Homo sapiens: one gene and its partner. Changing the gene in region 2 together with the main gene of any one other region gives a genetic interaction. Each region holds a gene or a part of one and is shown on either strand. Other genes may lie near its edges. The genes, in order: CDH1 and RAB25.

Region 1 (4,017 bases), on a different chromosome or scaffold from region 2:
CTCAAAGTGGTCTACCTGCCTCAGCCTCCCTAAGTGCTGGGATTACAGGCGTGAGCCACCGAGCCGGGCCCCTTCCTGGGTTTCTATCCTGCCTCAGCTCTATCTCCTTTGAGGGCACAAGGCTTTCAAAAAGGAGAATGAAATCATTCAGCAGTGGCTGTTTAGGATCCTTCAGCGAGGAAGTACAGGAAACTAGGTTTGAATTTTAGCCACTAGCTATTTGACTTTGAATAAGTCACTTTACTTCTATGAGTCTCAGTTTCCCCACCTGTAAAATGGGGCGGTAATACTTATTGATCTATTATGAGAATTAAGTATGTACATTCATTTAGTTCACAAAAGTGAGTGCCTGTTGTGTGTTAGCACCAGGCTAGACCCTGAGGTTACGGCAGATTGGACGGAACATACATGCCAATGGGCAGGAATGTAAAGAGAGAAAGTAGAGAGAATATTTTCAACAGTAGTTGATATTTCTTAGGGACACAGTAAACTCTCAATGTTATTTTGAGCAAATGAATGAACACATGAATAAATCGCTATCTTGGCCAATATTTTTCCCTCTCAAACTCTATGGACTTGGTCCAGCCCTTAAGGTTGATTGTAAATGGGCGGGGAAGAATTTGGTGGGTTAGAACCTTCCATTATGCTCTGTGTGTGCTGGGGATACTGTGTTCATAGCTTCCCTCTGAACAGCTGTGCAGGGCAGGCAGGGAGATCTCAAACCTGAGTCTGGAAATGGGAGGGCATATAGCCATTTTTAAGTGTTTTCCACCTTTGGTCAAATAAAAAGAAATCTGTGGTGCATGCTCACTCTTTCTCTCTCTATCCCCATCTCTAGCCATCTCCCTTTCTTTCTCTCTTCCTCTTTGTTAATGTAAGTTTCCCTAGGCCAGGGATCTCAGTGTCCCAGCTTGTTCTTGTTACTCTTGGGGGACTGGGGTTTAGGCCTCCTCCCTTTCTGCACTTTTCATCTTCCTCCTTCCTTCCTCTTACCTGCCTCCAATCCTCCACTTCTGCCCAAGATTTGGGTGGCATCTTCCCCAAATTCAGAAGGTTCTTGAATCAGACTGCCTAGATTTCAATCCAGACAATGTCACTTCCCAGCCTAGGGATGTCAGCCAAGGACTTAGTTTCCCTCTCTGTAAAATGAGCATAATAGCATGGAGACATCATAGGATGGTATGTCAAGCGTTCAGTGAATATGAAATATTAGAGCCCCAGGAGGACTTGGTGCTGTCTGTTTGAAAGTCTCCCATGTTTTACGTTTGGTTCAAAAGATCCCCTGCGCTCCCTCTCACCCAGCAAACCAGCCAAACCAGTTTCTTCACCCTGCCTGCTTCTGTGTTAAGCAAACAGTGCACTGCAAACAGTGACTAAGCCTAGTGCCTTGTTAGGAAGAAACTGGCGTTTTTTTGCTTGCCACTGTGCAGGGTGCTCAGGGTGGACCGGAACGGGTTTGTTGTGGCTTAGGAAAGGGGACCTGCTCGTGGAGGTTGTGTAGAACTGGAGTGGGAGGAGTGGGGCAAGGCGCAGCTAGGGCCGGGGGAGTCGGGATGATCTTGAACTTGTCAGCTTCTGCTTGGCTTTTAAAAGTTATCCAGGCCAGATAGATGCTGTGGCTCACACCTGTAATCCCAGTGCTTTGGGAGGCCAAGGCCGCAGGATTACTTGAGCCCAGGAGTTTGAGACCAGCCTGGGCAACGTGGCGAGACCCCCATCTCTACAAAGATTAAAAAAAAAATTTAGCCAGGTATGGTGGCGTGCACCTGTGGTACTAGCATCAAAAAAATGCAAAAATTTGCTGGGCGTGGTGGCATGTGCATGTAGTCCCAACTACTCAGGAGGCTGAGGTGGGGGGATTGCGTGAAGCCCGGGAGGTCGAGGCTGCAGTAAGCCATGATTGCACCACGGCACTCCAGCTGATAGAGATCCTGTCTCAAAAAAAAAAAAAAAAATATATATATATATGTATATATATATGTATGTGTAATATATGTGTATATATATGTATGTGTATATATATATATATATGTATATATATTTCATGATGCACATGCCTAAGAATACCTGTCTGTTCTCCTGCTGCCAAAAACGCTCTGTCCCAGCCCCTGAGATCCTTGTGGCTAAAAATCAAATCACCTAGGGCACTTCATGCAGACTTGCCCTCTTGCAGATTCACTGAGAGCCAATCTCCAAGGGTGGAGATCTGAACTTGACATTTACTTACTTATTTATTTTTTGGGATGAAGTCTTGCTCTGTCACCCAGGCTGGAGTGCAATGACACGATCTCAGTTCACTGCAACCTCCGCCTCCTGGCTTCAAGCAATTCTCATGCCTCAGCCTCCCAAGTAGCTGGGATTACAGGCATGCACCACTACGCCTGGCAATTTTTTTTGTATTTTTGTAGAGACGGTTTCACCATGTTGGCCAGTCTGGTCTCAAGCTCCTGACCTCAGGTGATCTGCCTGCCTCAACCTCCCAAAGTGCTGGGATCGCACGCGTGAGCCACCACACCCAGCCTTGAATTTGATGTTTTTAAAAGCTCCTCAGGCCAGGTGCGGTGGCTTACGCCTGTAATCTGCACTTTGGGAGGCCAAGGCGGGCAGATCATGAGGTCAGGAGTTTGAGACTAGCTTGACCAACGTGGTGAAACCCCATCTCTACTAAAAATTCAAAAATTCAGCTGGGCGTGGTGGCATGCTCCTGTAATCCCTGCTACTTGGGAGGCTGAGGCAGAAGAACTGCTTGAACACGGGAGGTGGAGGATGCAGTGAGCCGAGATTGTGCCACTGCACCCTAGCCTGGGCAACAGAGCGAGACTCCATCTCTAAATAAATAAAATAAATAAGCAAGCTCCTCAGATATCTGCTGCCACTCAATGCATTTCCCTGGACAATCCCAGGGGCTAGATGTTTGATGAGTAAATACCCCAGCCAGGATGTGGGCACCTGGTTGTCCAGCCCAAGGCCAGGGATCCCAGGTCACACCCTTGATCAGGGAGGGATAGGCTGGTGCTTCTGCCATGCCCAGGATTGAGAACTCTATGGATGCAAGGAGGGGTGGATGGGAGGCTGGGTGCAGTGGCTCATGCCTGTAATCCCAGCACTTTGGGAGGCCAAGGTGGGAGGATCACTTGAGGTCAGGAGTTTAAAACCATCCTGGCCAATATGGTGAAACCCCGTTTCTGCTAAATATAAAAAAAGCTAGCCGGGCGTGGTGGTGCATGCCTGTAATCCCAGCTACTTGGGAGGCCGAGGCAGGAGAATCACTTGAATCTGGGTGGCGGAGGTTGCAATGAGCGGAGATTGTGCCATTGCACTCTAGCCTGGGCAACAGAGCGATACTCCATCTCAACAAACAAACAAACAAACACACCAAAGTGGGGTGGATGGGTGTGGGAGTGGGGGACCCAGAGAAGTATCCAGTGCACCCAGGCCTAAGACTCACCCCCTACACTCAGGGAGATTCCAGAAAATCTCCAAGAGAGACCTCTCAGCAGGTAATTCCAGTAGGCTCCAAGAATGCCACTGGAATGAGAATGTGTTCAGGGGATGCCAGGAGTGGTCAGCTTCACCTGCTGGGCCTTGATGAGTAAGAGGGTGTCTTCCATGCAAGGAAAGGGAAAGGGCACTCCAGGAGGAGGAAGTGGGGTACCCAAAGGTGTGGCAGGGTCATGGAGGCAGAAGGCTGGAGCTGTGCCTTCCTGGGCACAGAAAGAGGAGGGAGGAGAGGGTCCCAGGATGAGGCTGCAGAGGCAGCTGGGCCAGGGTACCTCTGGGCCTTGGGCCGTGGGTCATGGAGGGTTTTCTCTTTCTGGGCTTTTCATAGGCAAATTATTCACCCGGTTAAAAAATAAGTTTAAATATACATCTTCATATATATATGAAAAAGCTTGTATATATGTCTGTATGGCAGACAGTGAAGTCTCCTTCCCACCCCAAACCACGCTTCACCCAGTTCTTCCCTGGGGCACAGGGAACAGATTTCATTAGTCTCTTGTGTATCCTTTTCAGTGT
Region 2 (4,193 bases):
GAGATACTAATGGTTCATGTTTACAGTGTACTGAATGCTTACTATGTGCCAGGCAGTGTCGTTAAAAGCTTTACACATATTACCTCATTTAATCCTCATAAGAATGCCATGAATCCCATTACTATTTTACCTGTTTTTACAGACAAGGCGCTTTGGAGGTCAAATGACTTGCCCAAGATAACAGGGCTAGTGTTGTAAACACAGAGATGTGCTGGCCAGATCAGCCTTCAAGGAAGGACTTGCCCCAAGCTGCAGGGAGTGCAGGCTGCAGACAGGCTCCAGCTGTCAGCTCCTTCAGCGTCTGCCTCTGGTGCAGACAGCGGCCTCACTGGAAGTCATGCCTTTTCTGGGCAGCCTACACCCAGTGCTCAAGCAAGGTGAGGCAATCACAGAGCTCCCCGCCCTTGACCCAGGTTTGTCCAGCCTGTGTTGCTGTTTGACTTCTCCCTCTGCCCAATTATGTTTCCTCTCCCTTCCTTTCACAGGTGCTGATTTGTAAAAAAACATTGAGCTGGGCGCGGTGGCTCACGCCTGTAATACCAGCACTTTGGGAGGCCTAGGAGGGCGGATCACAAGGTCAAGAGATCGAGACCATCCTAGCCAACATGATGAAACCCTGTCTCTACTAAAAATACAAAAATTAGCTGGGTGTGGTGGTGCACACCTGTAGTCCCAGCTACTCAGGAGGCTGAGGCAGGAGAATCGCTTGAACCCAGGAGGCGGAGGTTGTAGGAAGGCGGAGATTGCAGTGAGCCAAGATCGCTCCACTGCACTCCAGCCTGGGCAACAGAGCGAGACTCCGTCTCAAAAAACAAACAAACATTGAACACCCCAACTTCTTCTCAGCGTCTGCTTCTAGGGACCCCAACCCAACCCTCAATACTTTTTTTTTTTTTTTTTTTTTTTTAGACAGAGTCTTGCTCTGTTGCCCAGGCTGGAGTGCAGTGGCACAGTCTCGGCTTACTGCAACCTCTGCTTCCTGGGTTCAAGTGATTCTCCTGTCTCAGCCTCCCGAGTAGCTGGGATTACAGGCACGTGCCACCACACCCAGATAATTTTTGAATTTTTAGTAGAGACAGGGTTTCCCCATGTTGGCCAGGCTGGTCTGGAACTCCAGACCTTAAGTGATCCCGCCGCCTCGGCCTCCCAAAGTGCTAGGATTACAGGCGTGAGCCACTGCACCCGGCTGACCAACCCGCAATACTTGTAAGTGGCAGGGCTGAGATCTGAACCCAGTCTGGCTCCTGACCACAATGTTACACTGCCCCTCAAAATAAAATATGACTTTCGGGGATTGTTATGGTATTAATGAGGTAGTGGCAGGTACATAGTAAGTGCTCAATAAATGGTAGTTCCTCATATTATTGCCCCAGACTATTGCTAACCCTTTCCTTCCTGGAAAAGATGCCAGTAGTACAGGTTCCCCAGCTCAAGGGCGGGTTCTGGAGTGAGAGTCCCAGCTCAAGGGAGGGGCCGGGCTGAGGTTGGGAGAGGCATTGGGGTAGGGTGGCTGGAGAGTCCACCCTGCCCTAAAGGAAGTATGAAGGTGGGGTTGGAAAACAGCAAAGGCACCAAACACAGGGGCTAGAAAGATACATGCATGCTTCCAGGGACAGCAAAGTTGAGCCCAGTGCCTGGTATGCAGGTCCAGTGAGTCAGCCAAGGGCCAGGCAGACGAGGCTACAACCCTAGGAGTCCTCTGGATTCTATCAGACTCTGCAGCAAATTCATGATATTTTCTGTCTTCCCTATGTATTTATTGCCCCACCCTATAATGGGATGTGTCTCTCCTTTCTCTCGTTCCCTGTACACCTGCCCAGAAAAGATGACTTTCTTCCTCTTGTTTGCTGGTTTCCCTTTCTTCTCAAGAGAGAAGTCCTGGCCGGGTGTGGTGGCTCATGCCTGTAATCCCAGCACTTTGGGAGGCCGAGGTAGGCGGATCATGAGGTCAGTTCCAGACCATCCTGGCCAATATGGTGAAACCCCGTCTCTATTAAAAATACAAAAATAAGCCGGGCGTGGTGGCAGGTGCTTGTAGTCCCAGCTACTTGGGAGGCCGAGGCAGAAGAATCGCTTGAACCCAGGAGGTGGAGGTTGCAGTGAGCTGAGATTGTACCACTGCACTCCAGCCTGGGCGACAGAGCAAGACTCCGTCTCAGAAAAAAAAATAAAAGAGGGAAGTCCTTTCTGAAGTCTGACCTCCATCTCTTGTGCTGCACTGGCTGACACCAGGGATTTGGGTTTCTATTAGGAACGGGGCAGAGGAGCCTAACTCAGCACTCTTAAGGAGGAATCAACATCATTATTTACCACAGTAGAGCATACTCAGAAGCTCCCTGACTTTTGCCCCTGCAACCAGACCCTCCCCCACTCCCTGCAGCTTTCTTTCTGAAGGAATGAGGAGCCCCAGGAGGTCTTGGTAAGAGATAAAAAAACAGGAGGGGGCCCTCTCTGGCTCTATTCAATCTCTTTCTGGGTCTCTCAGGCTTCCTCTTGCTTCAGGGAACCCAACTCACCCTTGAAGACAAAGTTATAATCTTCCTCAGTTCCATTCCCCATCTTGGCTCCGCATGGAGGGTGCAGGTGTCTTCGGGGACAGAGGCGACAAATCTGTGTGTTGGCTCAATGCCCTCAACCCTCAGCTCTCAAAAGATCTGGTCCTGCCCCTCCTCTCATTGGGGGTAAGGGGACTTCTGCAGCCAGAGGGATTGGGGGCCAACTCAAGGTTAGGCAGGGCCTAGGGAGGATCAGCTCTGGCAGGTGGGGGTGCTGTAAGGAAGCAGAGAGGACGGAAGCTGAGAACAGGAAGAGCGGGGTGGCTGGAGACCTGGGGCCCAGGTGGGTGGAGAGATGATGACGTCAGACAGGTTCGACAGGTTGGGTGTCTGCTCTCAGCCTGGGCTCCCGCAAGCGGGAGAAGCAGCTCCAGCGGGGGGGAAGCGAAAAAGGGACAGGACCTTCAGAGACAGCCCACTGAGGGCTGAGTGTGCATTGCTGGGCTTCTGGAATCTGTGGTGAGGGCCGGTCCCCCAACTAATGAGCAAGAAATAGCCCCTCAGAAACCCACTTGAGGCCAGGCGCGGTGGCTCACGCCTGTAATCCCAGCACTTTGGGAGGCTGAGGTGGGCGGATCACCTGAGGTCGGGAGTTTGAGACCAGCCTGACCAACATGGAGAAACCCCGTTTCTACTAAAAAAATACAAAATTAGCTGGGCGTGGTGGCACATGGCTGTAAACCCAGCTACTTGGGAGGCTGAGACAGGAGAATCGCTTGAACCCAGGAGGCGGAGGTTGTGGTGAGTCGAGATCGCGCCCTTGCACTCCAGCCTGGGTAACAAGAGCGAAACTCCGTCTAAAAAAAAAAAAAAAAAAAATTAGCTGGGCATGGTGGTGGGCGCCTGCAATCCCAGCTACTTGGGCGGCCAAGGTAGGAGAATTGCTTGAAGCCGGGAGGCAGAGGTTCCAGTGGGCTGAGATCGTGCCACTGCACTCCAGTCTGGGCAACAGAGACTGCTTCTCAAAAAAAAAAAAAAAAGGCCGGGTGCGGTGGCTCATACCTGTAATTCCAGCACTTTGGGAGGCCGAGGCGGGCGGATCACAAGGTCAGGAGATCGAGACCATCCTGAAGGAATGAGGAGCCCCAGGAGGTCTTGGTAAGAGATAAAAAAACAGGAGGGGGCCCTCTCTGGCTCTATGGTAGAAACGGTGAAACTGTGTCTCTACTAAAAATACAAAAAATTAGCCAGGCGTAGTGGCAGGTGCCTGTAGTCCCAGCTACTCGGGAGACTGAGGCAGGAGAATGGCGTGAACCCAGGAGGCAGAGCTTGCAGTGAGCCGAGATCGCGCCACTGCACTCCAGCCTGGGCGACAGAGCAAGACTCCGTCTCAAAAAAAAAAAGAGGCCTGGTGCGGTGGCTCCCACCTGTAATCCCAGCACTTTAGGAGGCCGAGGCCAGCGGATCACGAGGTCAGGAGTTCAAGACCAGCCTTACCAACATGGTGAAACCCTGTCTCTACTAAAAATATACAAAAATTAGCTAGGCATGGTGTCACGCGCCTGTAATCCCAGCTACTCAGGAGGCTGAGGCAGGAGAATTGCTTGAACTCGGGAGGCGGAGATTGCAGTGAGCCAAGATTGTGCCATTGCACTCCAGCCCGGGTGACAGAGCAAGAGATTCTATCTCAAAAAAAAA

The links.
Region 1: changes in RAB25 (region 2) and CDH1 together harm fitness more than expected from each alone (negative genetic interaction), as found in Homo sapiens cells (one large-scale study listed by BioGRID).

The regions. Positions count from the first base shown.
Region 1 is NC_000016.10:68,743,596-68,747,612, forward strand, and holds part of CDH1 (cadherin-1 isoform 1 preproprotein), read left to right. Parts: intron 1-4,017.
Region 2 is NC_000001.11:156,059,767-156,063,959, reverse strand, and holds the start of RAB25 (ras-related protein Rab-25 precursor), read right to left. Parts: upstream 2,801-4,193; 5' UTR 2,560-2,800; coding exon 2,517-2,559; intron 1-2,516. UniProt on the Homo sapiens protein: The small GTPases Rab are key regulators of intracellular membrane trafficking, from the formation of transport vesicles to their fusion with membranes.